Linked DNA regions of Homo sapiens: all the other regions are reported to be linked to region 1. The links are microRNA targets in miRTarBase. Many come from high-throughput screens and were not tested one by one. Region 1 holds a microRNA gene; each other region holds the end of a gene's coding sequence. Distances are from middle to middle.

Region 1 (11,008 bases):
GCCAAATGCTAGTGCAAAGTGAGCCTTGGGGGTAAGGTCAGGGAACAGGTGCAGAGAAACCTGGAGCTAGCTACTTCGGACTCTGATACTGCATAGGGACAATGAGGATGGCTGTGCCTCAGGGGGGGTTTGTGATGTCTGAGGAATGCATCTCAGAGAAACTGGGTCTGCTGAGGCAGCAGTATACCCCAGGTGGTTGTGCCTAGTGCACAGTGGGACAACGTGCTGGACTCTCTTGTCCTTGGCCTTAGACCCAAACCCTCCCAGTGCCTTGGCTCCCCCTTCACCCCTAACAGTGGAGTGCTAAGTAAAAAGAAACCTCAGTTCTTTTTATCAAAGAGCCTTGCCTAGATAGGCAGCTTGCTTTGAAAGACAGTCATTCAAACCAGAAAAAGGAGACATGAAAAGCTTACTTTTCTCTATAATTGAGGAACAGAAGAATATAGTAAGTAAATCATAATAGACTAAATCTCCTGAAAAACTCCTACATTGCAAGTTTCTTCTTGAATACACAGTTGAATTTGCAAAAATAAATTCCTAGGGGTCAAAAATGAAGAGGAAGCCCACAACTCAAGAGGTAAGCAGCCTCATCCTCAAAATGTACAAAGTAAAATGTGAAAAAACTGCAAAAAGAGTTACGACCACACTAGCATACACAAATTTCAACACAAATTTCATACACAAATTTCTATCATTCTTCTCAAATGATAGATCAAACATAAAAATTACCAAGAATATAGAACATTTGTACAATACAACTAGCAAATGGGATCTTATGGACAACAAGAAATACACATTCTTTTAAAGTATACATAGAAGCAGGCTGGGTGCAGGGGCTCATGCCTGTAATGCCAGCACTTTGGGAGGCTGAGGCAGGATTACCTGAGCCCAGGAGTTTGAGACTAGCCTGAGCAACACAGTGAGAACTTGTCTCTACCTATATTTAAAAAATAAAAAAAATTAAAATATATAATAGAGGTAAATCAGAAATGTTTAGAAGTTGGATGGTATGACCCAGAACTGGGGTTTTAATCTGGTATAGAAGTTGATTTTTGCCAAGGAGCTTGCAGAGAGATTCACCTCAGTTCTGTGCTGGGTTATAGAGGATGGCATCAGAGAAGAATTTGAACACTTGAGACTGGAAACAAATGCACGTAGACTTGTAATAGCTCAAGAGTTCAATGCTACCCTGTAAATTGGCCTGTGCTTTTGAAATGTCTCAATGAAGACAATCTGACTGTCTCGTCCACTTCTTTCTCTCTGGTTACTCTGCTTCAGTTTAACCAGGGGCATTTCTGATAGAACATTTCTTCAATGTTTTTGCTTTTTGAGGATGGCATGAAAACATTCCAAGATTTTCCTTTTAGTGGAAAGTCGTTAAGTACTAGGGTATAATTCTAGATTCTAATTCTGATGACCAGACGTTTCAGGAAGCACCAGATGTTGAAGGTAAATCTTGAAAAAACCCTCCCAGCATCCAAGGAAGACTCTCCCTCTTAGAATAAAGCCCTAAACATTCCTGGGTTCTGATCCAGAAGCATCCTGCTTTTCTTGGCTCAGCAGTGAGTTTGTCCAATTGTTGGCCTAGGATCCCTCAATCTGAAGTCATTGATACAGCCACAGAAACCATGGCCAGATGTAAGTGGACAAGAAACCATCTTAGCTTCCAGGTGTTCACAAATACTCCTCAGTAGGAGCTGTACCCAAATGTCTCTGCTTCAAGTGCCAGACCCACTCAACTGTTCAACCATTCGGCTAAAGAGAATTAGCTGCTTCATGAAAAAGTAACTATGTACAGATCCCAAGGTTCAAGTTCAACAGATAGGGTTTCCGCAAAAACTTTATCATGTAGACAAATGCTACCTCTCCCCTACTGTTCAACTTTGACGGCCCAGTAGAAGGAATGAGCCCATTAGCACTAAATCCATACCAGTACTTAACTTTACCCCGGGCCCAACTCTCAGCCTAATTATACAACAGTCCCATCTCTGAAAGACTTTTCAATTGTGATTACGCAACCCCACAGGTACCCAGATTATCTAGAGTCTCTGTCAGATACAGGTTCTGAAAAGACAAATTTTCTCAAAGACATTTTAGAATCCCAGCAGCCCAGGCACTGGCCAGAGAGGAGGATGTCCACCGAGGCTATAAAGGGCCCTTCAGTGTTCCTAGCTCCTCCCCTCTCTGGAATCTTCTAGCTAAAGCCATCTGCTCAGCCATCCAGCTGGAGATGTTACCCCAGGGAGCTTTGCAGCAGAGAAGCCCGTGGTGGTTGTTGTTCTCAGGTGTCAGGGATAGGGATGGGAGCAGCTGCTAACCTTGCCCGGGCCTTTCAGTTCCACGCTGGCGGGATGCGGCAGGACCAAAGGTCAAGAATTTGTCTGGTCTTGTCGTGAGAAACTAGGCCCACCATAGCTTCCCTTGGCCCTGTCTGCACCCCATTAATTGTTCTCTTTTCCGTATTTTAGGATCTACTCTTGATATCCAGGCCTTTAAGATGCTTGCCCAGAGGACAACCATGTGCTTAAGCTTCTTTCATACTCCCTCTCTGCTGCAGACTTGCTGTGGATGAACTGGCCCCGGACACTTGTTGAATCAATCCCCCTTTAACCTGTGCCCTCTCCCTGGATTCCAAACCCCACATGCTCAGGGGAAGTTCTTGGTACTCTGGATTTATTTATTTATTTATTTATTTATTTATTTATTTATTTATTGATGGAATCTCGCTCTGTCACCAGGCTGGAGTGCAGTGGCGTGATCTCTGCTCACTGCAACCTCCACCTCCTGGGTTCAAGAGATTCTCCTGCCTCAGCCTCCCAAGTAGCTGGAACTACAGGTGCACGCCACCACACCCAGCTAATTTTTGTATTTTTAGTACAGACGAGGTTTCACCATGTTGGCCAGGATGGTCTCGATTTCTTGACCTCATGATCTGCCTGCCTTGGCCTCCCAAAGTGCTGGGATTACAGGCGTGAGTGCGCCCAGCTGGTACTCTGGTTTTAACTGTTCCCAGCTTCCTCACCAGACATCCAGAACTCTAGCTGAGTTGCCCCTTTAGATCACAAGTAATTTTCTTTATAAAGATCATCCATGGTTTTTGGAAACCCACTCATGAGATGAAAGTAGACGCCCAGCCAGGCTTGGAGGCAACGTGGAAGACAGAGTGACTCATGGGCTCCCAAGAGAAGGGTGAATGGTTCTGCTCCAAGGGTGGAGAACAGCTTTGCTCTTCCAGCTGTGGCTCCTTCCATATTTATCTCTCCAGAGAGAGAGGGGGAGCACAAGTCAGGGAGTCAATGAGAAGTGGGGGGATCCAGGGGTCTGGGGAAGGGCATCTGGCTAAAGCCCTGCAGCTTGAAAGAGTGACTATCCCAAGACAAGCAGAGGGTCAGAAACCAAGCCGGTAGAACTTGGGATGGACACAAAGATGAACAAGTAGTTCAAAGGCAGGCAGGAACCTGGCAACAAATACTGAGAATCAGGCAGCAGGGCCAATCGATCAGACAGGCAGGAGCCCTGTGAGTTATAGGACTTGGAACAGGACATGCCAGGCAGGCAGGACAACAGTGAAGGGTCCACATAGCCCAAGAAACATGAGGATGCCTCCTCCTCTACGCAGGTCTCCAGGGAGGGTAGAAGCCTGGTCCCAGTGCAAGCTTAGAGAAGGAGGGCCAGGCTGCAACAGGACTATGTAAGGGGGAGGTGGACCACATGACATCGCCCTGGATTCCCAGAGTCCTCATGACAGGAAGTGTGGAGTGGTACAGAAACTACAGCTTTAGAGTAAGCCAGGCAGGCAGTGATGGCAGGATGCTCGGAGGTATATACTCGTCTCCCTCTGCAGTCCTCCCTCTATACCCCCCTTAGATCCCAACAAGGGCAAAGCAAAATGGGGTGTTGCCTAGACCTGTTCCCTCCCATTCTTCCCCAACCCCACCTCCTTTAGGGTGAGCAGACACAGCACCATTTGATCATGCCCCTATGCTGAAATGCCTCAATAAAACAAAACAATGACAAAAGAATTGACTGAAACCAACTAAAAGCCACAACAGAGACAGGGTCTCCAGGCTGCTAGGATATCCCTCTCAGACTTCTCCCATCTGTTCTGCTCCACAGAGGCCTCCCAGCTGAGCCCTGCTGTCAGGGGAGGGCCCCTGGCCCCCTCACAATCTGTCATCTTTGACGCTACTTGGATCTTATTTCTTCTAGAGCTGCCAGGGGCTAGGAAGATACCTTGCCTGTGTGTGGGTAGGGGCCAGGAGGGCCATGCATGCCATCAGCACCAGGGCTAGGGTAAGGGGGGTATTGAGGGGTGGAAGAAAGGGATTCTGGGTTGTTGGGAATCCCGGCTAAATCTCAATTTCTCCATACTTTCCCCTTCCCTTGGGCTGCCAAGCCCTCCCATCTCCTGCCATCTGTGACAGGTGTCTCTGGGGAGACCCTCTTCTTTCTTGCTTGCTAATCACTGCATATAGACACTGAAAACAGGCTGGACTCTCTGCTCCTGGCAACTGTGTAGACATCCCTTGGGCTGATGTGAGTTCCTCTCTGTGCTGCCAAGGGATGGATTCTTCCTGCACCCTGTGCACTTTCCTTTCCTGGGCAGGTGGCCATCTCTGCCTGAAGACCTGGACCCTCAGCAAACCTGGCTGGGGGGCAGGGGCAGGCAGTGATGAAAAAACAGGGGGAGGTGACCACTGACTGCTGCTTTGAAGACTAGGTGTGCTGGGTGCCTCCAGCCCTGACCCACAGAATTAGCCAGTGATCCAGGCCCATGGACCTGAGTCTGAATCCTGGTTCTGTCCCTCACTAGTTGTGGCACTGCCCTTTTCTGGGCTTCAGCGTCCCCATCTGTAAAAGAAGCAAATGAGCTAGATGATTTCCCGCACCATCCTAACACCCTGTAAGTTAAAAATGATTCTGTTGATCTACCACTTGCATTCTTCTGGCCATTTCTCTACTCTTTAATCAAGACCCTGCTGTGACTGGTAGCTGGTAACAGTCACCTGTGAGGTAGCTGAAAGGACAGAGGACTGCCTCTGGTGCTGGGATGGTCCCCTGGGTCTGATCCCAAGACCCTGGTTTCATTACTATCACATCCTGAGCAGCTGAGTGAACCAGGCAGCTGGGAGGCAAGGAGACTAGTCATTTCCAATTTGATTTAAACCTTTTGTTTCCCAAGTCTCCTCAGCAAGGACGAAAGCAAACACTCAAGCAATATCCTGAATACTTCCTGATCATTCATTCATTTGGACATTCATTCATTCAACCCTTATGAGGCAGTACAACATCATAAGGAGTCACAGGAATTAGTTTGACCTGCTTTCTAAATCTGGCTCTGGCACTACTTAGCTGAGTAATGCTGGGCATGTTATCCGACCGCTGTAGGCCTCCGTTTCATCTCTAATATGAGGAAAATAATGGTGCTACCTACTTTACAGACAGTGCATCTAAAGCATCTGGCACACACTAGTTGTTATCATCATCAAGTTGAGTAAGTTGCTCATGGTTTCACGGGGAGACAGACGAGCACATAGCTGCCCATCACTCAGTGTGTGCAGGTTTCTTAGCAAAAGACAGGCTCCTTGGTTCTGAACGTCAAGAAAATAACTTCAACAGGAGGTTGGGGGTTAGTTTGTGGCACAAATCACTCATCCTTCCTAAAGAAAGTGAAGATGGTTCGTGGAAGCTTGAAACAGATTCTCAAATCATTAAGTGATAACAAAAAATCTATTCTTGAATTGATTTGCCCAGCTCAGGTGTGGGGACTGCCATTTTGGAATGGAGGCTCAGCGTGTGTGGTCTCGGGAGAGGGAATAGAAGGTAAGTAAGATCCTGCTCTCACAGAACGGGCATGTCTGATTCCCTTCACGCCTCTCTTCCCCTACATATCCCAGCCTGAGCCCCCATGCAGAGGGCAAAGCAACATCTAATTTGCCTGTTTCTGGCAGCTCTTGGACTTGCCAAAGCCTGTACCTGCCGCCACACATGCCCCAGAAGCCTCTGCCTGCTCCTTCGGGATGCTGCAGAAAGTGCTGACTGCGGATGCCGATTTACCGCTTCCCATTAGCCAGGCCTCTAACAGCCTCTGAGAGCCTGTGCCGGACACAGGCCCACCAGCCAGCTCTGAAAGGTCAGGCCCCAGGAGCAGGAGCCAGCCAGAGGCTTTGCGAGGCAGGCCTCGCACAGTGACCCTGTTGATGTGCCATCCTTTATTTTGTTTTAATAACAAAATGGCCTTATTTATCTTGTTTTAATCTGACAGCCTGAAAATTTCTCTTTGCGCTTGTTGAAGACATTTAGGTGGTCCTGTTTACCCTCTCTTGTCTTCAGACATCATAAATGATGCCCTTAAAAGTGTCCACATGCTGTCTGAGCCAGAGGTGCCCAATGCACATGGCTCTGAGGATGACCTCTCCCATCCCTGACTCCCATTCTTGGTTGGCTGATCATGGACTCAGTATGGAGGGCACTGGGAGAGGAGGTGGGATGCCTGAGCATCAGGCCTGAGTCTACCAGTGCTTGCCAGGATGACCTTGGGCACATAATTTAATCTCCTTAGGCCTCAGCTTGCTTATCTGAAATAGGAATAACTGTTGTCCTACATGTTTCATGATTATTGTGAGGTTAATTATGAGAGGTCCCCTTATAAAGAAAACAAAAATCATGAAAGGGACCTGCAAAGAATAAAGTACCTTAAAAATAGCTTTGGACACAAATGATTTCAGGTGTTGGTCTCACTGTCCCCCTAAGGTGGAAATTGCACAACCTTCCTGAGCATGAACAGCATGGCTCACATGCTCCAGCATCACCCCACCCTCAAGTCCTTGGCTTGGACAAACTGTAGCTCCTTCCCCCAGCCTGAGTGATACTGTTACCAAAGAAGGGCTCAGGGATAGGACAGGAAGTCCCCATAAGGATGTGGCTAGGCTGCAGGCATCATGCCTAGGGATTAGGAGCAGCCAGGGTCCTGGAGGCTTCCCAAAGTCTACAGCTTAGAGGAGAACAAGGAGGGTGACTTCTGAGTGACATGACGTCAAGGGGGCGGCGGAGGGGGGGGGGGGGCTCCAATGCCTTCCTCTGAGTTTGAACAGAAAACAGCCCTGGCTCCAGATGTACAGAGCAAGCCTTTCTCCTCCCCTCTATCTTTGAGTGGGTTTGTAGGGGAGGTTTGTATAGCTGACATGCCAGAGACCCCTCTCCAGAGTCTGAATGCTTCTCTGTCCAGGGAAGTTGCAGGGCCACAGCCACAACCTCCCTGTTCCTTAAGGCTGATCCACAGTCATCCTCTAGCAATAATAACGAGCATGCTCTGTAATAACAAAAATCACAAGTGTTGATTCCTAATCCGTATGGCATTAGGATGGGGAGATCTTATTACTGTCCATTTATGTACAGGCAAACTAGATGCTGGCTTATTAAGGGACCTGCCAAAGGTCATGCAGCTGGCACTGGGACCCAGATCTTCTGACTGGAACCCTGCGCTGGGGAACCAGCAGCTAAATCTTCCACTGGCACAGTGAACAGTTCCAACTGGCATGTACCCCAGAACCTAATGAGGGAGCAGGGTCCACATGGGCCTCGAGAAAAGGAACAGTGCAGGAATTCTTGGGAGCCAGAGGTATGTCCAATGAGCTGATGACAAAGCCAGGGGTCCCTTCCACCACCAGATGGGAATCCTTGTTCTCCTTCTCTTCCTAATCATCCACCCGAACAGCAACTGCCCGGAGAGTTTGAGGGATGAATAGCTATCCATATCCAGTACCTGGGTAGTCTGGGTGACTGTCTGCTGGGGCCCAGGGCTGCCCATTAGGGCCTGAAGGTGTAGGCACACGGCTAAAAGCTACAGCCCAGACCAACCAGCTTGCAGCCCGAGAACTGAGGATGTCGTCCCCCTGCTCCCAAGGAATGTGCTCCTCAGCATGAAAGGAGCTTATTCCCTGCTGTCTTTACTCCTGGCCCCTCACAAAGATATGGCTCTTACAGCTAACCACCAATGCCATTCTCAAGGGGAATGCAAGGAGGTTCACACACATGATCTCAGAGCAACTTACTCTGTTTCCAAAGGAGTGAGGAAATACAGAAATCAGAGAAAACCAATAAAGCTAGGTCCATTATCACTATTTTGCAAAGCAAGTTCAGAGAACCCCCTTCCTGGGAGATAAGGCCATCATCTATTAGAAACAGAATACTAGTCAGGTGTGGTGGTACATGACTGTGGTCCCAACTACTCGGGAGGCTGAGGTGGGAGAATCACTTGGGCCCAGGGGATCCAGGCTGCAATGAGCTGTGATTGTGCCACTGCACTCCAGCCTGGGTAACAGAGCAAGACTTATCTCAAATAGACGGATAGATAAATAAATAAATAATTTTTAAAAAGAACCAGAGTAGTCAGAGCACATGAGCTAGACTCCTGGCACGGCTCCTTGCTGGCCATGAGGCCTTGAGCTAGCTACTGAGCATCCCTGGACCTCACAATAGGATAACTTCCCTCACTGGGTAAGATTTCAATGAGGCCATGCATGGAAAGCACCCTGCACAGTGCCGGGCACATAGACCTTTCACGTGTGTTATTTCCCTTCTCTTTCTTTTCCTTCCCAAACAGCATCTCCAGACGTTCCTCGATCTGGACAACTCTCCTGGCACAGGCACACTCACACCTTCTTCACTAAAACCCAAAACAACAACAACAACTCTAGAACCATCCTTAAATACCACACTGATTTGGATTAGTGAGAATAAGAGGCAACTTGCCTGATGACTCTGCCTCTGTGGGGGAATATCCCACTCTGTGGGCAGTTCTGCTGCTGGTGTGCAGGCAGGCACCAATCCCTTCCACGGACCCTCAGCACCACGAGGACTCTGCTTCTTTGTAAGTATTCACCAGGATGCTCTGCTACTGCTAATTTCCTGTTATTTATCTTCTCAAAGGAGTCCATAATAACCAACTTATAAATGACAGCCACTTCTTGTGGCCTGCTTGGTGTTAACACAACAGAAGTTGTGGCCCCTCTGTTATCTGTGACAACTTTTTCTTATCAGTAGATCAAAGTGGTCCAGGGAAGGAAGCTGGGTAAGAAGAAAGCCATGCTATCAACTACTTGGAGCCTTTGGGCAACCCTAGGCTTCCTTGCAAGAAGCTTTGAGGAAAAGAGCTAGGTGCATGATGACAGTAACAGCGGCCATAACTACTAACTTTTCTTGTGCTGATATGAATGGAGGGCTGACCTGTCCCCCTCACAGGCCAAACTGTGGCAGTATATAGAAAGCCAGGACACAGGGTCAGAAGACATGGCTTGCAGTCTCAGCTCGGCCACTTACTTGATGTATGGCCTCAGGCAGGTTACCCAACCCCCTGAGACTCAGTTTCCTCATCAGTAAGATCAGCATGACAATAGTACCTAGTTCCCAAGAACCAGGGGGATCAGATGAGAGGGTCAGATGAGGGGGTCAGATGAGATCAGAATGCAGTACGAATTAGAAGGAAAGGGGATATTTGGGACTGCACACCCCACACCAGACTTTGCATTTCCCTTTCACTTGCCAGTCTGCATCCTTAACCTGGAACATGATGCCTCTGCAGACCTGCCCCTAAAACAGCATTTGTCCCTGCTGCCTGTGGAAGGTCACTGATACTTTGCAGTCTGATGCCCTCACAGTCCATCTCCTGTCCTTGCTTTCCCCAACCCATCCAGTGCCCTGGAATGCAGATTAATATCCCAGGCTACACAAGCCACAATTTGTTAACTTCCCATTTGTTTCTCCCCCTCTACATCTTTCCCTAATCATTTGTTTCCTCCCCTATCTCTCCAACTCCTCCTTTGACTCCAGAGTTGTGCTTTATCTCCAGTGAGCTTAATGCTTCCCTGATAAGACCAGTTAATCCTCTGCTGCTCCTCTTTTGCAGAGATGGAGGAGATTAAAGGCAAAGGGTCATCTCCCTTCCAAGGGCACTCAGGACTTTAATAAAGGAACTGGATCCTGCTTTCCCATCTGATGCTCTAGATTGGCATCCCCAGTGTTTCTGCTGAGAAGCAGTTCTGGTTATTTCCAGACCGTGAGCCTCCTGATTGGAATGAAATGGAAATGGCGGGGGGAGAATGGGTATTGGTCAAGTGGCCTGGAGACTCATCAGGCTCCCTGGACAGATGGGCTGATCTGGTCCTCGAGAGCAAAATGCCCAACTGTGTGACCATCTCTATGGTCACCAATGAAGGTCACACTTAAAGCCACACTGGGCATGTAGCAGCATGTAACTGGTAACAAAAAGGGGAGCTCTAGCTTGGGGGACATAACTGTACTAGCCAAGGCCTTTAGCCTTCTCCTCCACAAGTCCGGGATTAATGAGTTAGTGATGCAGGTGGAACAGTGCCACAACAAGGTCTCCTTGGGTACACACTGAATGCCACTTTACAGCATGTAGGTGATACGAGAGCAAGGCTTCGGTGTTTGCTGAACACCACTCCCAGTGTACAGAACACCTCAGGGAGACAGAGGAAGTGACAGAAGTAAGCCCTGTGCTGAGAAACAAACCATCTGGTGGGGTAACACAGGACAAATAACGCAAAAGCACAGCGGAGTTAAACTATATATTAGTGCTAAGTAACTGCTGGAGTGTCTTGGGTTCAAGATCTTTGTGGGTTCAGGCTTAGGTTTAACATGAAAAGCTAACTTTGAAGAGACATTATTTGTTGAAGAGGACAGACTATTTGAGGTCAGAAAAATAGTTTATTCGTTTATTTTGTATCAAATGTTTCTTGAACATCTGCTATGGGCCATGCACTGTTCATAAACAAGATGGACATGACATCTGCTTTCATGAAATTTACACTGTAATGGACAAGTCAGAAATTAAGTAAACAATTATATTCTCACTAATTATATTCTTAGTAATGGTAACCAGTATAAGAACAGCGCATCTTGAAGGAAAAGAACAGGAGGATCCCAATTTCAACTGTGAGATCAGGGATAGCCTCTCAGAGGAGATAGCGGCTGAGACCGGAATGAG
Region 2 (11,008 bases), 13 Mb from region 1:
ATAGTCTCTAAGAATCCCTTCTATTGTTATAGTTGTGTAACTACCTAATGAGATTAATTCTATCCCAGTAAGACCCAAAAGGAATACTGTACATATCTGGCAAAGTATAGATAACACATTTCTCAAAATTTCAACAATCCTATTATCCTTATAGTACAGAAATTCTTGTTAAGAACTTTACTTGACTAAACTCTCACATATTTCTAGTAAAATATAAAATTTGACAATCAGAATTTTTATACATTTTTTGTTCTAAGAGATCTTTAGGGTAATTCTTTTTTCTAAATCCATTAATATATTTTGCATGTTTATAAAAAAGGCTCGAAACACTGGAGAAGGATGATATTCACCTGATCCAAAAATGTGGAAATCTCAAGTTCAAGAGTCAGACACCCTAAAAGTAATTTCACAAAATGTGTTGTCACTTGTAAAATTTGAAGAAATTATTAGTGGATTAAAAATGGAGAATACCTAAAATTATGAAATAACATGAGGGCAAATGCATGCAACACAGCAGTTCAGAGCAGGGACTCTGGGATTAGACAAGGATTTATGTCTATCTAGGGTTTACCATCTTCTGTGATACATGACCTTAGTTAATCGTTCTATCTCTAGAACATCTATCAACTATCACCAGGTAACTGTAGGTTAAATGAGAAAATTACTATTAGTCATACAGATTGATACAACTCTTTAGATACTCATTTATGCTAACATTCCTGAAATGTATTCTCATGGGCTGTTAGTAAGTGTTGTTGGGGGAAATTTAAGATTCTATGAGTTTGGGCATCTGGTTTATTTCAGGGCTTTTCAGTCTTTAATATGTGAATGTACATTGAGAATTTCCAAAAGGGAAACATAATATTTTGCATTTCTAAAACTTATTTGACTGACCCCATTTGCAATGAGTATCTCAAGGTACTAGTATGTTCCACTGAAATCAAATTTCCAAAACTGTAACTTGGGTATTATGTAGGACTATGAATAAACTGATATCCTCTGATCCAGTAGATCGATCCCTCAGCATTTTTATAATATTAAAAAATGAATTCAATAAGAATGAAGACACTTTGTGCAGTGTTTTTATAATAGCAAAAATCCATAAAACCTCAATGTCCAATGATAGAAGGATAAAAATATATCAATGTCAAGGATTATTATGCAGCTAGAATGGAGACTATAGCTGCATGAAAATGTTAAGACAGAATCCAATTTTCTACATGTATTAGGATTATAACAATATAAAAAATACATATATGGAAAAGAAAAGAACAGATGAAAACGAAACAAATTAATGTTCCAGATAGAACTGGAGTCACCCTTTTATTTAGTTATATTTTATAATATTGTATATATGATAAACAATGGTAACTGTAAACAAAGACACAAAGGTAAAAATCTTGATTAAAAACTTTTAACATGTCTCTTCTCATATTAAGTTTGCTGATAATAAATGATATTTAAATTATAGGACCATTCAAAGACTGTCAGCAAGCAAAAGAAGCTGGGCATTCGGTCAGTGGGATTTATATGATTAAACCTGAAAACAGCAATGGACCAATGCAGTTATGGTGTGAAAACAGTTTGGACCCTGGGGGTTGGACTGTTATTCAGAAAAGAACAGACGGCTCTGTCAACTTCTTCAGAAATTGGGAAAATTATAAGGTAAATCAGTGATGCAGACCTAAGGGAAGTAAAACAAATCCATTCTTGCAATAATGCAAGAAACAAGATGCTATGCAATAAATAAGACACACAGTTAAAAATAACTATCCATATGTTTTTTCATTATCTACATCTGTCAAAAAAATGATTCTCATCTCTGGTTTTAAAGTCAAAATTAAATTGCAAAAAGGAAACAGAAGATATACTTTTAAATGATCCCTTTCAGTCTGGATGACTTATACTTACTACTTTACAAAGATTACTATTAGGAAAAAAATGTTGGGCTCTTTAGATGAATATGAGAGAGACCAGGAACCCTTTTTAAGGATCTGGGTAGTATACTAGCTAATATTTTTAGTAGCTATGGATAAATTTTATTCTCATTTGCATTGTCTTATTTGTAGGATTTGAAGCTAGCTATGCAAATGAATACTGACATATCAGAAGCAAAAAACAAACAAACAAAAAGAGAATGACAATGTGTGGCTTATAAAACGCAAGTGACCAACTAAAATGGAAGCTCACATTACCACTTAAATGGCCAGTATCTTTATGCTATCGAATGTTTAACACTGCTCTGTAAAAATGTTTACTATCTCTATACTTATTTATGCACTCATGTTTCTTCACTTATTAACAGAAAGGGTTTGGAAACATTGACGGAGAATACTGGCTTGGACTGGAAAATATCTATATGCTTAGCAATCAAGATAATTACAAGTTATTGATTGAATTAGAAGACTGGAGTGATAAAAAAGTCTATGCAGAATACAGCAGCTTTCGTCTGGAACCTGAAAGTGAATTCTATAGACTGCGCCTGGGAACTTACCAGGGAAATGCAGGGGATTCTATGATGTGGCATAATGGTAAACAATTCACCACACTGGACAGAGATAAAGATATGTATGCAGGTAAGTATGAAAAACTTTCATTCTTTGTAGAATCATCACCTTCTATGCATTAAATAGAATCTACTAATATATATGCTACTAAAGTCTTTTCAAAAAGGTCAGTTTTGGTCACTGTGGCAGGAAATACAACCAACCTACTGAAAGAAATAGCTTTTAGGATTTCTTCTATAAGGCAATCCCAAAGTGTGATCTATGTGAAAAACAAAGTTCTGGGAAAAAAACACAAAGCAAAACAGAAACACATTAATCTGGAAATAAAATGCAAGTGCCTACAATTCATAACAAATACTAACTGAACACCTACCACGTGCCAGGCACTGTTGTAGGTGCTAGGGATATAACAGTGAACAAAGTTCCCGCCCTTTGGAGCTTACTCACTGGAGGAGAGACAAAACAATTTGTTAGGTGGGAATAAGTACTCTCAAAAATAAAACTGAGTAAGAAAATAGAAAGTGGTGGGCAGCAAGGCCTGGGATGGCAGCTATTTTATATGGGTTCGCCAGGAAAATCTGCTGTGAGAAAGCAACATTTGAATAAAGAGTCGCAAGAAATGAAGGATGCAAGCCATTTGGATACATGGTGTAAGAGCATTTCTTTGAGGGGGAAAACCAAGATGACTGTGACATGTGGCATAGGAATAACAAAAAAGCTTGATTCAAAGGGGAAATTAATATTTTCATTAGAAAGAAACAACTAGACCATCCACATAATTTCAAATTTAGTTTTCATATGCTTTTGACTTTTTAACCCAGGTTTCTTCTCGTCCTGATACAGAGATCCCCTCCTCCCCTCCACCCAACAATTCTCCCCCATCCCTGTCCCAAACTGGTTTTTCTCTCCAGCTGTATTTTGGCAAACAGCACACAGGTCTCTATTTTAACCAATTTTACACTGGTAAACGAGAAAAGAGGAGAGATAGACCATAACATATGTCTTATTTACAGAAACCCATTTGACTGCTGGTTTTATTTTACTTTGTATTATTTTTTGCTATTTTATTTTGACAATTCAATTTTCCTCAGACTTTTATCTTCTTCTGTATCTTTCCTTCCCAATTTCTCCCTCTGTAACTCTTTCACATATAAACACTGCTTGCATCTACTCTGCTAACTAGAAAATTAAATCCCCCTTTTTAAAAAAGTACATTGTAAGCAAGCAAAGAGTTAAAAAAAGGCAATTCAAGTGATTTTTCAAGCAGTTGATGCAACAGCCATCAAGTAAGTGAAGGCATTTAAAACTGCTGAGATAAAGGTAACTGGGATTAGTAAGGGAAGTTCAAATTAAAGGTAGAATAAGTTTTTTATGATTGCAGAGTACCACACCTAGAAGAAACTTTTACATTTATATCTGTATTTTTTCCTCAAAGGAAACTGCGCCCACTTTCATAAAGGAGGCTGGTGGTACAATGCCTGTGCACATTCTAACCTAAATGGAGTATGGTACAGAGGAGGCCATTACAGAAGCAAGCACCAAGATGGAATTTTCTGGGCCGAATACAGAGGCGGGTCATACTCCTTAAGAGCAGTTCAGATGATGATCAAGCCTATTGACTGAAGAGAGACACTCGCCAATTTAAATGACACAGAACTTTGTACTTTTCAGCTCTTAAAAATGTAAATGTTACATGTATATTACTTGGCACAATTTATTTCTACACAGAAAGTTTTTAAAATGAATTTTACCGTAACTATAAAAGGGAACCTATAAATGTAGTTTCATCTGTCGTCAATTACTGCAGAAAATTATGTGTATCCACAACCTAGTTATTTTAAAAATTATGTTGACTAAATACAAAGTTTGTTTTCTAAAATGTAAATATTTGCCACAATGTAAAGCAAATCTTAGCTATATTTTAAATCATAAATAACATGTTCAAGATACTTAACAATTTATTTAAAATCTAAGATTGCTCTAACGTCTAGTGAAAAAAATATTTTTAAAATTTCAGCCAAATAATGCATTTTATTTATAAAAATACAGACAGAAAATTAGGGAGAAACCTCTAGTTTTGCCAATAGAAAATGCTTCTTCCATTGAATAAAAGTTATTTCAAATTGAATTTGTGCCTTTCACACGTAATGATTAAATCTGAATTCTTAATAATATATCCTATGCTGATTTTCCCAAAACATGACCCATAGTATTAAATACATATCATTTTTAAAAATAAAAAAAAACCCAAAAATAATGCATGCATAATTTAAATGGTCAATTTATAAAGACAAATCTATGAATGAATTTTTCAGTGTTATCTTCATATGATATGCTGAACACCAAAATCTCCAGAAATGCATTTTATGTAGTTCTAAAATCAGCAAAATATTGGTATTACAAAAATGCAGAATATTTAGTGTGCTACAGATCTGAATTATAGTTCTAATTTATTATTACTTTTTTTCTAATTTACTGATCTTACTACTACAAAGAAAAAAAAACCCAACCAATCTGCAATTCAAATCAGAAAGTTTGGACAGCTTTACAAGTATTAGTGCATGCTCAGAACAGGTGGGACTAAAACAAACTCAAGGAACTGTTGGCTGTTTTCCCGATACTGAGAATTCAACAGCTCCAGAGCAGAAGCCACAGGGGCATAGCTTAGTCCAAACTGCTAATTTCATTTTACAGTGTATGTAACGCTTAGTCTCACAGTGTCTTTAACTCATCTTTGCAATCAACAACTTTACTAGTGACTTTCTGGAACAATTTCCTTTCAGGAATACATATTCACTGCTTAGAGGTGACCTTGCCTTAATATATTTGTGAAGTTAAAATTTTAAAGATAGCTCATGAAACTTTTGCTTAAGCAAAAAGAAAACCTCGAATTGAAATGTGTGAGGCAAACTATGCATGGGAATAGCTTAATGTGAAGATAATCATTTGGACAACTCAAATCCATCAACATGACCAATGTTTTTCATCTGCCACATCTCAAAATAAAACTTCTGGTGAAACAAATTAAACAAAATATCCAAACCTCATAGTGGTATTATTCTTTGTTTTACCTGTGGTCATCTTAAACTGGTTTTTCAGTCCCTCTCCACTTCCTTCAGAACCAAAGAATCTGTTATAAGATTCCTGGAAGGAACTGGGCATCTAACTGTTACACCAAATCTTAAGTGAATAAAACTTTACCAAGGCTTCTCAGTTATTGAAAGCAGTATATCATTTCATTTAAACACCCAAAACTTTATCAAAGACAAGCCTTACAGAATTTTCACAGAAGAATATCATTAAAACTAGAATTTGAAAGTCAACATACAACCTTGGAAAACTAGGCTGAATGCTAAACTGCCTTAGCCAATGGGCCCATTCTGCTCTCCTTCAGAGAGCTGATTTATTTTACTCTGAAGTTCCTAGACAGCATAATAACTTGGGCAACTAAGTTTCTTGAGAGGAGAGAATAAGAAGCGGTATTATATGATAGTTAGTGTAGGTTCTGAAGTCAGAACTGCTTGGGTCTGTGGCCCAGCTCTACCACTTGCTAGCTGTGTTACCTTGAGCAATTTATAAACTCCTATCTCAGCCTGAATCTATAAAATGGGGTATAATAAGAATATCTAGCTCGTGGTTTTTGTGACGATCAAATAAATGAGTTAATACAGGTAAAACATTAAGAATAATGCTTGACATTCGTAAGTACTCAGATTTAAACTATCATATTATTACTACTCATCTACGTACTTTCTGCAATACAAATCATAGCACCTTGCATAGAGTAGGTGATCAACAAACGTGTTTTAAAAACAATATCCGGGCCAGGCGTGGTGGCTCACATCTGTAATCCCAAGACTTTGGGAGGCCGAAGCAGGTGGATCACTTGAGCTCAGGAGTTTGAGACCAGCCTGGCCGACATGGTGAAACCCCATCTCTACTGAAAACACAAAAATTAGCCAGATGTGGCACATGCCTGTAAACCCAGCTACTCGGGAGGCTGAGGCAGAAGAATTGCTTGCAGTGGGCCGAGATTATGCCACTGCACTCGAGCCTGGGGGACAGAGTTAGACTCTTTCTCAAAAAACAAAACAATATCCAAGTTTTCGGGTATGAAATTACATTGATCCATTATCTTCACTTGCAAATCTAACAAAGCCATGACAGCTGTTATAGTAGGCAGTTAAGTGGCTGGACCAAAAATAAAAAGAAAACTTAAGGCAAGAAGAGACATAGTATGAATTTCAGCCTAAAGAGAGTCTTGTGAAAGACCAGGTTAGCTCATTTGTGTGGTAGGTAAGGTCCAAGAGCTACCTACTTTGCAGGTCATCTAGGAATAAAGATGGGTTTGCCTTATCTTCAGTAAGACTGAACTACAACCTTCTCTTAGAGCTGGTTTATAGAAGGATTCTTTTACTTAATTTTTCTTTTTGTTTTTTTTTAGACAGGGTCCCACTATGTCACCCAGGCTGGAGTGCAGTGGCATGATCTTAGCTCACTGTAATCTTGAACTCCTGGGCTCAAACAATCCTCCCACCTTAGCCTCCTGAGTAGCTGGGACTACAGGTGCATGCCACCATGCCCAGCTAATTTTCGTATTTTCTTTGTAGAGATGGGGTCTCACTGTGTTGCCCAGGTTGGTCTCAAACTCCTGGCCTCAAGTGATCCTCCCACCTTGGCCTCCCTAAGCACTGGGATTACAGGTGTGAGCCACTGTGTCCAGTCAAGAATAAGTTAATGAATTTTATCCTACAACAGATATAGACTCTATTCTGGACTAAATGGGAGGCCATCATTGCCTAGAACACCTGACCTCCTGAAGCAGATTTTAAAAATTTGAGATTTTGGAAAATGCCAAAATTAGACAGCAACTTGAAATTTAGTAGACACCTACAAATACACTATCTCTGGGCTTCATGCCTCGTAGAATAAAGATCAATTTTCATTCTACTGTTTACTTAACTCTGAGTCATGACAGGAGAGTGCTATTCTCTTAGCATTATATTTCTTAGGACTCCTGCTGGTAATATAAGCAGCAGAATAAACCTTCCACAATCATAAAAACATTTTAAATAACTTATAAATCTGTACTAAAGTAATATGGTTTACATATATTTAAATTAATCTTTGTAGTAAGTTAAAGATTATTATACCCTAACAAGTTTTTAGTCTTTTTATTCTAGTGTCTGTGAAAAATAACCAAGTAAGAAAACAATGATTCCACTTACAAGGCTATGACCTCGCCCTGAAAAAATGGCCATCTTATCTTAAACTAGCTCACTTTTCAGTTTTTTTTTTTCTTTTTGAGACAGAGTTTTGCTCTTGTTGCCCATGCTGAAGTGCAATGGCACAATCTCGGCTCACTGCAACCTCTGCCTCCCGGGTTCAAGTGATTCTCCTGCCTCAGCCTCCCCAGTAGCTGGGATTACAGGCGCCCACCACCACACCCAGCTAATTTTTGTATTTTCAGTAGAGATGGGGTTTCACCAAATTGGCCAGGCTAGTCTCGAACTCCTGACCTCAGGTGATCCGCCTGCTTTGGCCTCCCAAAGTGCTGGGATTACAGGCATGAGCCACCATGCCCGGCCACTTTTTAGTTTTATCAGTGGAGTTAACTGTTATCAAGTTATAATTGTACACATAATTACAGGAAAGACTGATGAATGAACTCAAAATTTTAACCTGAACACAGATACCCCAAATTTTAATGTAATCCATAATGCTTTCTTTGAGCTGTGAATGAAATACGTATCTTTACAGCAAGTCAATTTAAACTCCTTTGTCTCAGTTTCTTCACCTGTAAAATACAAGTATCATTTACCTTATAAAACTGCTGTTATGTATTAGATAATCTATATAAAGTACAGTGTCAGCTATATAGGCCTAAGTGTTGAATAAATGTTACTGAAATTATTACTTTCCTGCTAAAGCCTGCTTAAAAAAATTACAAAACAAATCACTGAAATATTCACAGTTGGAAACACCACTGGTAAAACTGTTGTTAGGGGAATCTGATTCTGTTTACAATTAGCATGCAGATCTGTATAGCTGCTGTTCTTATTTTTTTAGAAAGACAAGGCACTTAAAGAAAACACTATGAACATGGGGATGAAATTAACACAACCCCACCCCCAGCTCTTTTATTTCAGAAGTCTTTGGTCTAAAGTAAACTTCAGAAAACATATCAACAAAGAATTTAGAGGAATTTTAAATATATAAAAGAGTGAGGGTAAAAAAATATATAAATGAGGTAATGGAAAATGGGGATGTAATTCTGGCTAAAGAAAAGGGGCTAGCTGCCATTTGGTCAGAGCTTATTCTCAAATCCAAAAGAAAATCAGTGAAGATGCTTTACTGCTGTTTTAGTATACAATATATAACAACATATAATTAAAAGAATAGGGTAAGGTAATCCATAATGTATATTATTGACAAATCAAACTAAAGAAAGGAAAATGGAATAAAACTTGAAATATTAAAAGCCAATGACATTTATTGACCAACAGGCATTTCTGAGATCAGTGTCAGAGCCTTACATATTGAAGAAAAATTCTATCAAACGAGAGGAAAAATCTCCTTTTAATTCCTACAGATCAGCAAAAAGACTTGGACTTTGTTGAAATTATCTGAATAGAAATATGAATACAAAACTATTATTCTTGAAAACATTTTTACATGAGTTAGAAATTTCTAAAACTAAATAACTATATTCTACTGAATATTTAACAATTCAATATATGCAAAAACGACTGAAAACCAAATCGGTAAGATTCTTATCATTTTAGGTATGCTTTAAAAATGTCATTAACTATGATAAGGACACCACTAACAATGTAAGGCACAAGGCAATGATATGCATCTCTTCCAGGATATAGAAAAGAGGAGAGATTATTCATGAGGTTAATGATATCCTGGACCTTTGTAATTCCAGAGATATTAAGTTCTATAAAGGCAGGGACAAAGCCCATTGTAATCTCTTGCTATATATTTAGCACCAAGCACAGTGCTAAGTAAATACTAGGTGCCAGCTGAGGCACCAAAAACAAAACAAAATAACAACAACAAAAAAAATCAGGGGTGGGTAAGGAGTTGACCCATGCAAATATGCCACACAAATACATTTATTGTTTAAACAGAAATTAAATCAAAATCACTGAAACAATGGGAAGAGCTAGAAAGGGATAATTAGTTGAACCAAGAAACATTTATTATATGACTACTTTTGTTCTAGATGCTGTAAGGATAAACCCTTAAACCAAGACAAATAGGGGCTTACATTCTGTTGAGGAGGAGACAGATTAATGAAAATATCATAAACAGGGTGCTTTTCAGAGAGCAGTAGGCAAGGAACACTATATTACAGAGGGTTATAAGAAAAGTATTTCTCTTCTAACAAAAAAGTACTATCATGAAAACCTGACATATTAAATTAAAAATTAAATGGGGAAGGGGAAGAAGTCTCTCTCCAACAGGAAAAAGGAGTCATATCTAGATCCACCAAAAGAGTATACTCACATTCTACAGAGGGCTAGAGATTTTACAAAAACTTTTCTGTTACATTCTGCTTCTACTTAATAGGAAGCAGTACAGAGTACTGCAACAATTTACTGATTTCCACAGTTCAAAAAATATGGTTTTTTTTTTTTTTTTGAGATGGAGTCTTGCTCTGTCACCCAAGCTGGAGTGGGAATACAGGCGTGTGCCACCACACCCAGCTAATTTTTTGTATTTTTTAGTAGAGACGTGGTTTTGCCATGTTGGCCAGGCTGGTCTCGAACTCCTGACCTCAGGTGATCCACCTGCCTCAGCCTCCCAAAGTGCTAGGATGACAGGCATGAACCACCGCACCTAGCCAAAATATGCTTTCTTGGTCGAGCTACTGCATCTTTGTAGTACATAAAGTAGAAATGAGGCTTAGAAAAAGCACATTAAAGAATATTTATGATGTTTCATATAACTAAATTATTTTTTTCACAATATTCTAGTTTGCTCTCGTCAGCAAAATAAAACTTACCATGCCAAATTCTTCAACAAGCCCCTTAAGACTGTTCTCCAATGACAAGAACAAATAAGTGTTGTTAATGACTTTCAGATTTAAAAGCAATAATTCTCTTATAAAGCAATTTTTTCCTTCAGATTTGCCAACTATTCCTCTCTAGACAAATTATATCCTTATTCTAAGAATTTTTCACGATATTGTCCAAGCTGACTAATTTTTACCTTGAATGCAAACCAACAGAAGAGACAATTTTTCAAGGGATGATGAGTTGAGAGCCGAGAAAACATTTCTACTTCTTATAATTTAATCCACATTGAACTACAGATAAATTTGGTGGTATCAAAATAAGAGTTTTACCAGCATATAGGACTCTACTCCCTTTTACAAGCTTCACAAAAATTGGTAGGTTTTGGTTCTCATTTTTAGGGGAGAAAAAACTATTAGTTTGGACCATATACCTCATGTTAAGAAATCATTAGCGGTTACCTTTTTTCTATGCACT
Region 3 (11,008 bases), not on the chromosome of region 1:
TAATAAGGGTTGTGTGTGTGTGTGTGTGTGTGTGTATTTTTTTTTTTGCTTTTATTGGGAAAAATTACTACTTAGAGAAGTCTTCTTTGAGTATTGCAGCAATATTTCCTTTGTCTTAATCATTTTCATAAATAATGTTAAGATATGAATAAACCTCACGATTAGAAAAATCTTGATGTCATTTAAGGCATTCTAGCCAGCAAGAGTATCTTTTAGACAAGTATTTTTATGACTATCGTTCTCTTGCTCTTTATTAATAAGCATTTTGTCTATTTCAGTTTATCAACTTTTAAACATTGAAATTTTAAAGAATCTACTTCTGCATTGCTATGGCAGTATTTCTGAGCCAACTGAATTGAAAATGTTTGGTGGTGTTAAAAAATAAGTGTTTAATTCTCAAACTGATGGTTTTCATTTTTCATGTATTCCTTTGAATACCAAAGGATTTCTTCATGTAAAAATATTTGACTTTTGACTCACTATTCTATTTGTTCCTAAGGTGTATCTAGCATTGTGTAGTTATGTAATGAGTTATATTCAGTATTCTGCTGCATAATACTTTTAATGTCTTAAATTAAACATAGGCTTGTAGCACAGATATAAATGCCGTAAGGTTAGGTATCTGATTATTTCCTGACTACTTCCTAAATATTTTATGTTACAGCATATTTCCATATTTACAACTCACCTAAGAAGGGTTATCTCTCAATTATTTAGTTAGAATATCCTTGATGATTGGCTGTTTTATTGCGTATAGCCCTTTTGGCAGAGAAAGAATAGGCAGAGGAGAATATTGGTTCATTATTTTTTAGTCTTTTGAATTGTTTAGTCATCCTCAGCTGACTAGATGGCTTTCTGAGGTATTTAGAACCAGGAAGACAAATTTCACAGTTAATTGTGATTATTTTGATAGAAATTGGAGTGCTTTCAGAAGTAGAGAACATGCAGCCTTTACATTTGTAAAAATAATTTGAGATAATCTTTGCATGGTTCACACTGAGGCAGAAAAGAATTATTAGCAAAATCATAGCTAGGTTTTATTTTTATACTTTTGCCCATTGCCATTATTGACTGCCTATCGGTGGATGGTAAGACTATTTAAAATTTCCATGATTGTGTAGAGGTGTTTTTTTCTTTTTCTTTTTTTTTTTAAACAGTAGAGAAACTCCAGTCACTATTGTTCATATATGGACTCTTGTAATGGTGGTTATAGGTCTTTACAATAGAGCTATAAGGAATACTCTAGCTTGTGAATTTACTAATGAGTCTCAGTTGAGGCACAAATGAACTGATGGAGTTTAAATGGTGATTTTTATAAGGCCAAGAATTGAAGCCTTTGTATAATTTGTGCCATGCCCTTTTATTTTACCTCTTGTAATCCAGATAGCTGACCAGTTTTTACTTTGGGTATAATTCCCAATTGTGTTTCATTTAGTAAACAAACAAGTGATGCCAATACTGGAAAACTAATAATCTTTAGTAATATTGCCTTAATTTAACAGCTCTACATTAATCATACTCCTCCACCACTGTCCAAGAGTAAGGAGAGAGAAATGGACAAGAAAGATTTGGACAAGTCAAGGGAAAGATCCAGAGAAAGAGAGAAAAAAGATGAAAAGGACAGGAAAGAGCGGAAAAGGGTTTGTAAAATTTTTTTTAAACTAGTTTGGAAAGCTCATTATCATGTACACCAGTGTGTATGTTGCCTTTTAAAAAATACTAGTTTGTTCCATAGTAGTCTGTTATTTCATGATTTTATTGATATTTTTACCCTGAAGTGTTTGCATTTTCTACGTTAATAAGGATCTTCAGCCTAGTAATCTCTGTCAGCTCTGCTTGTCTTTCATGCCATTTTACCAAGTATGTGAAACTACTGCAAATACTCTCCATTGCTAGTTAGCTGTGCCCTTCTCATATAAAAGTAATACTTTAAAACAAAAACAGAAGCCCTTGGTCAATGTAGTTCACAATTCTTGGTTCTAGGATCACTCAAACAACGACCGTGAAGTGCCACCGGACTTAACCAAGAGACGTAAAGAGGAGAATGGAACAAGTAGGTAGACTTATTCATATCTTTGAAGATATCATCGAAGTGAATTGGAAAAGGCTTTCATGATTTTCTTTTGTAATTTTAGTGGGGGTTTCAAAACATAAAAGTGAAAGTCCTTGTGAATCTCCTTATCCAAATGAGAAAGACAAGGAAAAAAATAAGTCAAAATCTTCAGGCAAAGAAAAAGGCAGTGATTCATTTAAATCTGAGAAGATGGATAAAATCTCCTCCGGTGGCAAAAAGGTAAATTAGGAAAATAAAGGAATAATATGCTTTATCTTAAAAAAATCAATCCTGAAAATTTAGCAAATATTGAATTTTTTTCCTAGTCCTATAGTCTTTTGTTCATTATTTAGGAGTGGGAAGAAGAGGTATTGAGGGAGGGCATTCCGTTTGGGGAATTTGAGTCAGTTCAGTCCCAGATTACCAGGAGGGTAGAGTTAGTATACCTCTGAGATTCCTTTCCCCTCTCCATTCCATTCCCACCTACTTCTGTTGATTGAGTTTCAGCTGTTCTTTGCATTTTCTTTTTTCTCCACCAACTCTTTGCTTTTAGTTTCTCTTTATTCCTGAGATTAAAATATGGTCACATGTATTCTCTCTGACCATCATAGCATCATAAAGTCTTGATTGTGATTTGAAACATTTTTGTAACGTTTTCTCCTAATAAACTCATTTGTTTGATACTTGTATTTGATTTAAAAATTGAGTATAAGATACATTCTCTTACATATTAATGGTTGATATTTAAAGTGAATCTCACGCATCTGCCATAAAGTAATAAGCAAGCCATTACTAAAGTATAAATTGTTTCCAAAACATTGTTATATATATTGAAAATATATGCCATTTATTCATAGTTCATAAAAACAGCTCTAGAAAATTATATAATGAACATTTTAATTCTATGCTTTAAAAGATAGGCTGTTCTTTTAGGTGTTTTTTAATTGAGGTAAAATTCAAATAACATAAAATTAATCATTTTACAGGTGTACATTTAAGTGACATTTAGTATATTCACAGTATTGTGTAATCATCTCTATCTAGTTCCAAAACATTTTTATCACCTCCAAGAGAAAACTCTATACCCATTTAAACAGTCACTCCCATTTCCCCTTCTCAGCCCCTGGGAACCATAAATCTGTTTTCTTTATGGATTCACTCATTCTGAATATTTTATATAAATGAAATAGTACAATAATGTGCCCTTTTGTGTCTGATGTCTTTCACTTAGCATAATGTTTTTGAAGTTCTTCCATGTTGTAGCATGTGTCATTTACTTCATTTCTTTTTATAGCTAAGTAATATTTCATTATATGAATATACCACATTTGTTTATCCATTTTTCAGTTGATGGACTTTTGAATTGTTTCCACGTTTTGGCTATTGTGAATAGTGCTGCTGTGAACATTTGTGTGGGGCTATAAGTATTTGTTCAAACACCTATTTTTAATTATCTTGGATATATGCCCAAGAATGGAATTTCTGGGTTATATGGTAATTCTATGTTTAACTTTTTGAGGAACCACCAAAATCTTTTAGACAGTGGCTGTACAGTTTACATTTCTACCAACAAAGTATCAGAGTGCAGATTTCTCTACATCTTTGTCAACACTGGTTATTTTCTGTTTTTGTTTTTTATTATAGCCATTCCAGTAAGTGTGAAGTGGTGTCTCATTGTGGTTTTGATTTGCATTTTCTTAATAACTAATGATGCTGAACATCTTTTCATGTGCTTATTGGCCATTTGTTTATCTTTCAAGAAATCTGTTCAGATACCTTGACCATTTTTTATTTTGAGGGTTTGTGTTTTTGTTGCTCAGTTGTAAGAGTTCTTTATGTACTTTGGATACTAGATCCTTATGAGATAGGTGATTTGCAAATTTTTTCTCCAGTTCTATAGGTTGTCTTTTCACTTTCTTGATAGTGTTCTTTGATGCATGAATGTTTTTACTTTTGATGAAGTTCAATGTATCTATTTTTTTCCTTTTGTTGCTTATGCTTTTGGTGTCATGTTAAGTAAGTTTTTGAAGACAAATATAGCTCGCGGGTGATGAAAAGGGGTTTTGAGCTGGCTTTTATATTTGGCTTTCCCTTCCCCAGCTAATTCTACTATTTCTTATAGGAGTCCAGGCATGATAAAGAAAAGATAGAAAAGAAAGAGAAACGGGACAGTTCAGGAGGAAAGGAAGAGAAGAAACAATATCCTTTTCATTTTGATGTTTTCAGTTAGTGTAGTAGAAAGCTTTGATACTGGTCATGTTTACAATTGTACTCTTTTAGTATGTGGTTTATATGCTTAAGGGCTGATTAGTTTTGAAATGGTCTTTCCAGTTAACTCTCAAAATGTGTGAAATCTGGAAGTGGGATACTTGATGTTCTTGATATTTAAAAATACTTCTGTGGTGACTGAGATGTTTTATGCCACTAAGGGATTTATAGTCTTTCAGGTTATATTATCACAGAGAGGAAGAAAGGGAACAGAGAGTCCCTAGGGCTGGGGACATTGGGAATAGAAGGGCAAAATGATGAGTCAGACAAGCAGAGCTGGTAGAGTTTGAGGCTACCAGGCTGGTCAGAGCCCATTTAGGCCTGCAACCTGAGGTGCTGTACTAAAAGGGGAGATGCTGTTCTTTCCGCCATTCCCAAAAGTTGTTTTCCCTTAATTTGTCATCTACTCATAAGTCCTCGGACAAGCACAGATAATGAAGACTTTCCATCAAGGTGAGTGTTCTCTCACCACCTTTTCACTTAATGATAGAAACATAAAATGAGTTCTGATAATGTTGAAAAACTAGATGCATTTTACAAGCTACAACTACTTGTTTTTTTCACCTAAATATAACGACCAAGTCTTCGGGTATAGATGCAAAACAAGATTCAGAGTTATTTTTAAGCTGTTTTCATTTTAAGCTTGCTGATTAGCCACACATTTTTTTTTTAAGCACCAAGATATATTTAAGAACATCTGGCTTTCTCTTCACCACTTATTCCCATCTTCTCTGGATAATTAATTATGTTTTTAAAGTCCTTATTGCCTTGTAAATGGTGGTAGTGGTATCTGCATTTTATAAGTGAAGAAACAGACTCTGAGAGGTTAAGTTGAAGAGGGTCATAAAGATATTAGTCAACAGAGCCAGTTGACTATCCTCAGTCTTTCTATCCTTTAGTGTTCTCTGTTCCTTTTGCTTTCTCATGCTGATGTCTTATCCAAAGATTTTTAAGTTTTCGTGCCATTTTTTTTTTTTTTACCACTGCCCATGTTTTGCAACAGAAAATATGGTCTGTGTTTTTAGTTCTGGAATTTACAATGTGTAACTTTTTTTTTCTTTTTTTTTCTTTTTTTAGGTAATGCACTTAATGCTTTATGTGAGATTTAAAAAGTATTTTACCCATCTTAAATAAATTGTGTTTCCATCATAGTGGATACAGTGTTCAGACCCTAACATCGCCTTTTTTGAGCACTTAAGATAATCTGAATAGTTACTGTTTGGTGATGCCTTAGTATTATTGAAGTACGTAGGACAATTTGCCCCCTAAATGTAATGGTTCCAGACAGCTGTGTTTTGAGGCTGTTGATTCTGCCTTTATTTTTTTATTTTTATTTTTTTTTGAGACAGAGTCTCACTCTGTCGCCCAGGCTGGAGTGCAGTGGCGCGATCTCAGCTCACTGCAACCTCTGCCGCCCAGGTCCAAGCGATTCTCCTGCCTCAGCCTCCTGAGTAGCTGGGATTAGAGGCGCCTGCCACCGCGCCCGGCTAATTTTTGTATTTTTAGTAGAGATGGGGTTTCACCATGTTGGCTAGGCTGGTCTTGAACTCTTGACCTCGTGATCCACCTGCCTCAGCCTCCCGAAGTGCTGGGATTACATGTGTGAGCCACTGTGCCTGGCCGACTCTGCTTTTTTATAGCCCGTTTTCTTGCTTCCATGTTAGCCATCATTTCTTAATATATTAAGTATACTTGCTTTTCTATACTTCGTTAATATATTAATTAATTAAGTATCCTTGCTTGTCTATACCTCCCCCCTAATATTATTGGATGCTTCTAATCTTTTATGAGACCAGATAGATAACCAAGGCTGTTTACCAGTGTTTAAATTACAAGTGAGAAATGTCTGAGAGCCAGTTCTGTATAAGGGTATGGGCTTAAAGGTATGGATTTTGTCATCTTTATTTTGGCTGCAAAGCAGGGATTCGAGAGGTTGCCTTATAGTCAACACATGATGAATGGTGTGCTTTTCCTGCTTTTTTGGTGCTTGCTATGTAAGTAGATTAGGGTAAAGTAGGGTAAATGAGAGTTATAAAAGAACATTTCGAATTTAATAGATTTAAAAGGAAATATTACTGCTAATTCTTCAATTCTAGCTGCTCCTACCCCCATCCCAACCTTACAACTATCTTCTCTGGTGAGCCATAAACTCTTAATCCTCATTTTAACCTTTCTTTTAATCTGGCATTTTGCTGTCACATGTGGTCTCCCTATTAAAAGAAAAACAAAAAGCCCACCTTTCATATCTTCATGAGGAATGAGCCAGCCATTGTCACTGACAACTTTCACAGTGATTTTATATATCTCTGTTTACTCAGTACCCAAATATTATTCTTTTGTATGTGAAGGTTATGCTACAGATTTGAGTTTTTCTTGCACTGACCATGAATTTGTATTTTACCCCTCTGTGTAATCTCTTAGGAACAAAGGGATGACAAAACTGGTCAGGGTTAGATATTTGGCTCGTGGTCTTATAGCAAAACTTCTAGATTCAGATGTTCTTTTAAAAGTATGTCTAGCTGGATGTCCATCCTGTTGAATTCCTCATTGACAACTTTGTACGATACTTTCTTCTTGGGTAGACTCTTAATTTTGTGAGACTCTGGTTGATAGTTTCTTTTCTTTTGAGACAAAGAAGTCTCGCTGTTTTGCCCAGGCTGGAGTGTAATGGTGCGATCTTGGATCACTGCAACCTCTGCCTTCCAGGTGATTCTCCTGGTGATTCTTCAAGAGATTCTCCTGCCTCATCCTCCTGAGTAGCTGGGATTACAGGCACGCACCACCATACCTGGCTAATTTTTGTATTTTTAGTAGAGACAAGGTTTCACCATGTTGGCCAGGCTGGTCTTGAACTCCTGACCTCAGGTGATCCACCTGCCTTGGCCTCCCAAAGTGCTGGGATTACAGGTCTGAGCCACTGTGCTGGGCCATCTGGCTGATAGTTTCTTTTTTTTTTTGTTTGTTTGTTTTGAGATGGAGTCTCACTCTGTCGCCCAGGCTGGAGTGCAATGGTGCAATCTTGGTTCACTGCAATCTCTACCTCTCGGGTTCAAGCGATTCTCCTGCCTCACCCTCCCTAGTAGTTGGGACTACAAGCACGTGCCACCACGCCTGGCTAATTTTTGTATTTTTAGTAGAGACGGGGTTTCACAATGTTGGCCAGGCTGGTCTTGAACTCCTGACCTCAGGTGATCCACCTGCCTCGGCCTCCCAAAGTGCTGGCATTACAGACGTGAGCCACTGTACCTGGCCGATAGTTTATTTTAAAACAAAAAAAAATTTTAAATGGAAACGGGGTTTCGCCATGTTGCCCAGGCTGGTCTGAAACTCCTGGACTCAAGCCATCTGCTTGACTTGGTCTCCCAATGTGCTGGGATTGTAGGCATGAGCTGCCATGCCTGGCTGATAGTTTCTTTTTCTGGCTGTTGACTGCTACTTTCTATTTGGATACATTCCAGGGTTGGTCAGGTCTGTTTTTCTTCCTTTTCTTTAAGAATGTTATCATATCTGATTGGAACCGTCTATTTACAGGCTACTTTGAAATCTGCTGCCCTCCCCCACTCACCTTTTATTTTCTATTCTATAGAAAGGACAGCTCTTACATATGTCATATTTCCATGATTGAAAGATGTCGTTACTTGTAAGATTTCATTATTGTTTTTAGAACAGTTTTTTTAAGGAGGGTTGGTAGAGAAATGACAGTGATTTGTAAGTATCATCCTGATTTTCACAAACATTAAAATAATCACATTAGAATTAAGATACAAGGCCAGGCATGGTGGCTCATGCCTGTAATCCTAACACTGTAGGAGGCTGAGGCAAGAGGATTGCTTGAGGCCAGGAATTTGAGATCAGCCTGGGCAACATAGTGAGACCCCATTTCTAATAAATAAATAAATAAATAAATAAATAAATAAATAAATAAAACTTAGCTAGGCATGGTAGTATGCACCTGTAGTACCAGCTCCTTGAGAGTCTGAGGCAGGAGGATTTCCTGAGCACAGGAGTTCGAGGCTGCAGTAAGTCATGATTATGCCACTGCACTCCAGCATGGGTGACAGAGCAAGACTCTGTCTCTTAAGAATTAAGAAGATAACAGTATATAAATATGACCATAATTAAATTCCTTCCAGTCTTCTGTCATCTTTTCTCGTCTTCTGTTTTTGGTTGCAAAACTCTGTTCCTTCTCTGCATCTTCTGTTGCCCTTAAAGTCTTTGTACAAATTCATCTTGCCTCTCCTTGATTTAGTCTCTTGAAGATTACTAGTTCCTTTGCCTTTAACCTTCCTTCCTACTTTAACTTTTTTTTTTTTAATTCCTGCTTATAAAATTGTCCTCTGAGAACCACCACCCTTTGGCTTCTCAATTTTAACTTGATATATGTGATCCTCAACTCAGGGATGTTGAGTTCAGCAAACTTTTGAAAGTCCTTTTGTGAACCAAATGCTGTGCTAAGCTGACATTTGCTCCCAGGCCTTGAGATACTCAGTCTCCTTGCTTTTTATTATTTTGGATGTAGGACTTTGATTTTAAAGAACATTAGCAGTTAGCACTACTTATTCATAATCTGTATTTTTAATCTACTACATTCCTATTCTAATCCTCCATTCCAAGAAGGCCAAATATATTTGCAGGTCCATTCCTTCCAGTCTCACATGTGTAACCTAATTTTTATCCTCTAAATCCTACGTTGCAAATTATCAGCCCTTGGGCAGAATGTGGGATGTTAAATGTACTTTATTTTATTTTTCATTTCATTTCATTTCATTTCATTTTTGAGACAGAGTCTCTCTCTGTCACCCATGCTGGAGTGCAGTGGTGCGATCTTGGCTCACTGCAACCTCTACCCCCTGGGTTCAAGCGATTCTCATGCCTCAGTCTCCCGAGTAGCTGGGATTACAGGCATGTGCCACCATGCCTGGCTAATTTTTTTGTATTTTCAGTATAGACGGGGTTTCACCACGTTGGCCAGGCTGGTCTCAAACTCCTGACCTCAAGTGAACCGCCCTCCTTGGCCTCCCAAAATGCTGGGATTACAGGTGTGAGCCACCACGCCCGGCCTGTCTTTCTTTCTTTCTTTCTTTTTTTTTTTTTTTGTAGAGACGAGGTCTCACTATATTGCCCAGGCTGGTATTGAACTCATGGGCTCAAGTAATCCTCCTGCCTCTGCCTCTCAAAGTGGTACGATTACACATGTGAGCCACCACCGCCAGCAAAATGCACCTTCTTAACCTCACACAATATTTCAAAATTTTAAAAATCTGTTTGTTTTTAAAAATCAGAATTGACAAAATCCAAATTTCAGTTTTTCTTGAAGGATTGGAACATCTGGTAACATTGTGTTCTGATTTCTGCATAGCATCATTATGTCCTGATTTCAGCTAGACTTGTCTAGGTGCTGCCCCCCTTTAGAATAGAGCAAGGGCCTTTTTAAAAACAGTTCACCTCCGTCAGTCCCCACTCAGCTCGTTTCTTTTGTTTTCATCACGTTCTTGGCCTTTGTAGACAATTGATTTTGTAATTCCAGCTCTAAGCCTTTTTTTGTTTGTTTGTTTTCCCTTCAGTTCATACTTGGAAACTGACCTCCTAAGCTCCTGAAGATTTCTTGTTTTAGGAATGCATTGCCATTCTGAGGCTTATTCCTAGATGTTGACGATAGGTATTGGTAAAGGGTATGGGATAGGGAACTCATCAATGTTCACATTGATGCCAGAGAAACATTTAATATCTCTGTATAAGTGCAACATTGACTTTTTTTGCCACCAAACACACCATTTTATAGGAAGGGAACCTATACTGATTAAAAGAGCTTGCTTATTTGCTGCAGCATATTTTTTGAGGGCAGATTTAATATGCTCTCATTTTGGTCTGTATGTAGTAACCATTAAATGTATACTAGACTCTTGTAAGGAGCTTGAAATGACAGACACAAATCATTTCTGTCTTCATTATCAACTTTTATACTTAAAAAAAATACTGAGTATAGGTTTTGTGCACTGATATTCATAGGCATGAAAAGTTGAAGAGGGCAGGAGAAATTTTCTATTTCCTTGCTCTTCCACTTACGGTAGAGCAAATATTCATTTATATGCTGTTTTTTAAAATTTTGACATGGGCATGAGCACTTATAAAAGGCTTCCATACAACATTTGCCCTGAGTGTGTCTTTCCCCTACACACATAATTATCCTGAAAAGCATCCCTGGGTGCAGTTAAGTTTCAGCTCAACAGAATCCACGTCTTAACTCTGTTACATTTTATCCACGTGGAACATCTCAGGAACTCTGTTTGCTATAAAGAATTCCTAGGTTGCAGTATAAGGGTAAATGAAGGAGTAAAGTGGATTTAGGATGGCTGTCCCCATGTCTTTCTCATAACTTCTTTCTTCCTTATAAATATTTGTTTGACTTTTTAAATGTCAAGTTCATCTTTATATGCCTTTCTACCTGGGGTTTATGTGAAAAGAACGAGAGAATGAGAATAAAATCCTGACAGTTTCAGACACTAGTAAAAATGCATGGAATGCAGTTCTGGGATGCTTCCTGTGAAGTGAAGACACTTAACCAAAAATAATATATTATTTTGGTGGGCTTGATTTTATAGTTTCTCTTAAAAATTGTTTGGTTGCCATCCAGAGGGCTCTTTTATGAAGAATCTATATAAACTACTAAAACATTTCTTAGGACCT

Evidence for each region. Region 1 holds the annotated microRNA hsa-miR-921 (CUAGUGAGGGACAGAACCAGGAUUC, at 4,789-4,813, opposite strand). A microRNA usually pairs through its seed, bases 2 to 8, with sites in the 3' UTR of a target mRNA and lowers its output. Matches are read on the target gene's strand: a 7mer-m8 pairs with bases 2 to 8, a 7mer-A1 pairs with bases 2 to 7 and ends in A, and an 8mer does both.
Region 2: miRTarBase lists ANGPTL1 as a target of hsa-miR-921. The part of its 3' UTR that is shown has no 7-base or 8-base seed match.
Region 3: miRTarBase lists THOC2 as a target of hsa-miR-921. The part of its 3' UTR that is shown has no 7-base or 8-base seed match.

What each region holds. Positions count from the first base shown.
Region 1 is chr1:166,149,985-166,160,992 of GRCh38, forward strand. It overlaps MIR921 (microRNA 921), which reads right to left and starts at 4,814; the gene lies at 4,759-4,814. All of the region lies in intron 1 of FAM78B (family with sequence similarity 78 member B), which reads right to left. RefSeq lists an enhancer at 68-237.
Region 2 is chr1:178,844,251-178,855,258 of GRCh38, reverse strand. It overlaps ANGPTL1 (angiopoietin like 1), which reads left to right. Exons shown (of 6, transcript NM_004673.4): 4 at 1,472-1,665; 5 at 2,306-2,576; 6 at 3,943-5,724. The coding sequence ends at 4,130. All of the region lies in intron 8 of RALGPS2 (Ral GEF with PH domain and SH3 binding motif 2), which reads right to left. Among named protein-coding and RNA genes, the nearest start is that of ANGPTL1, 21 kb to the left of the region's middle.
Region 3 is chrX:123,604,684-123,615,691 of GRCh38, reverse strand. THOC2 (THO complex subunit 2) reads left to right here. Exons shown (of 39, transcript NM_001081550.2): 34 at 1,503-1,640; 35 at 1,984-2,053; 36 at 2,136-2,293; 37 at 4,176-4,252; 38 at 4,729-4,774. The coding sequence ends at 4,756. Among named protein-coding and RNA genes, the nearest start is that of THOC2, 120 kb to the left of the region's middle.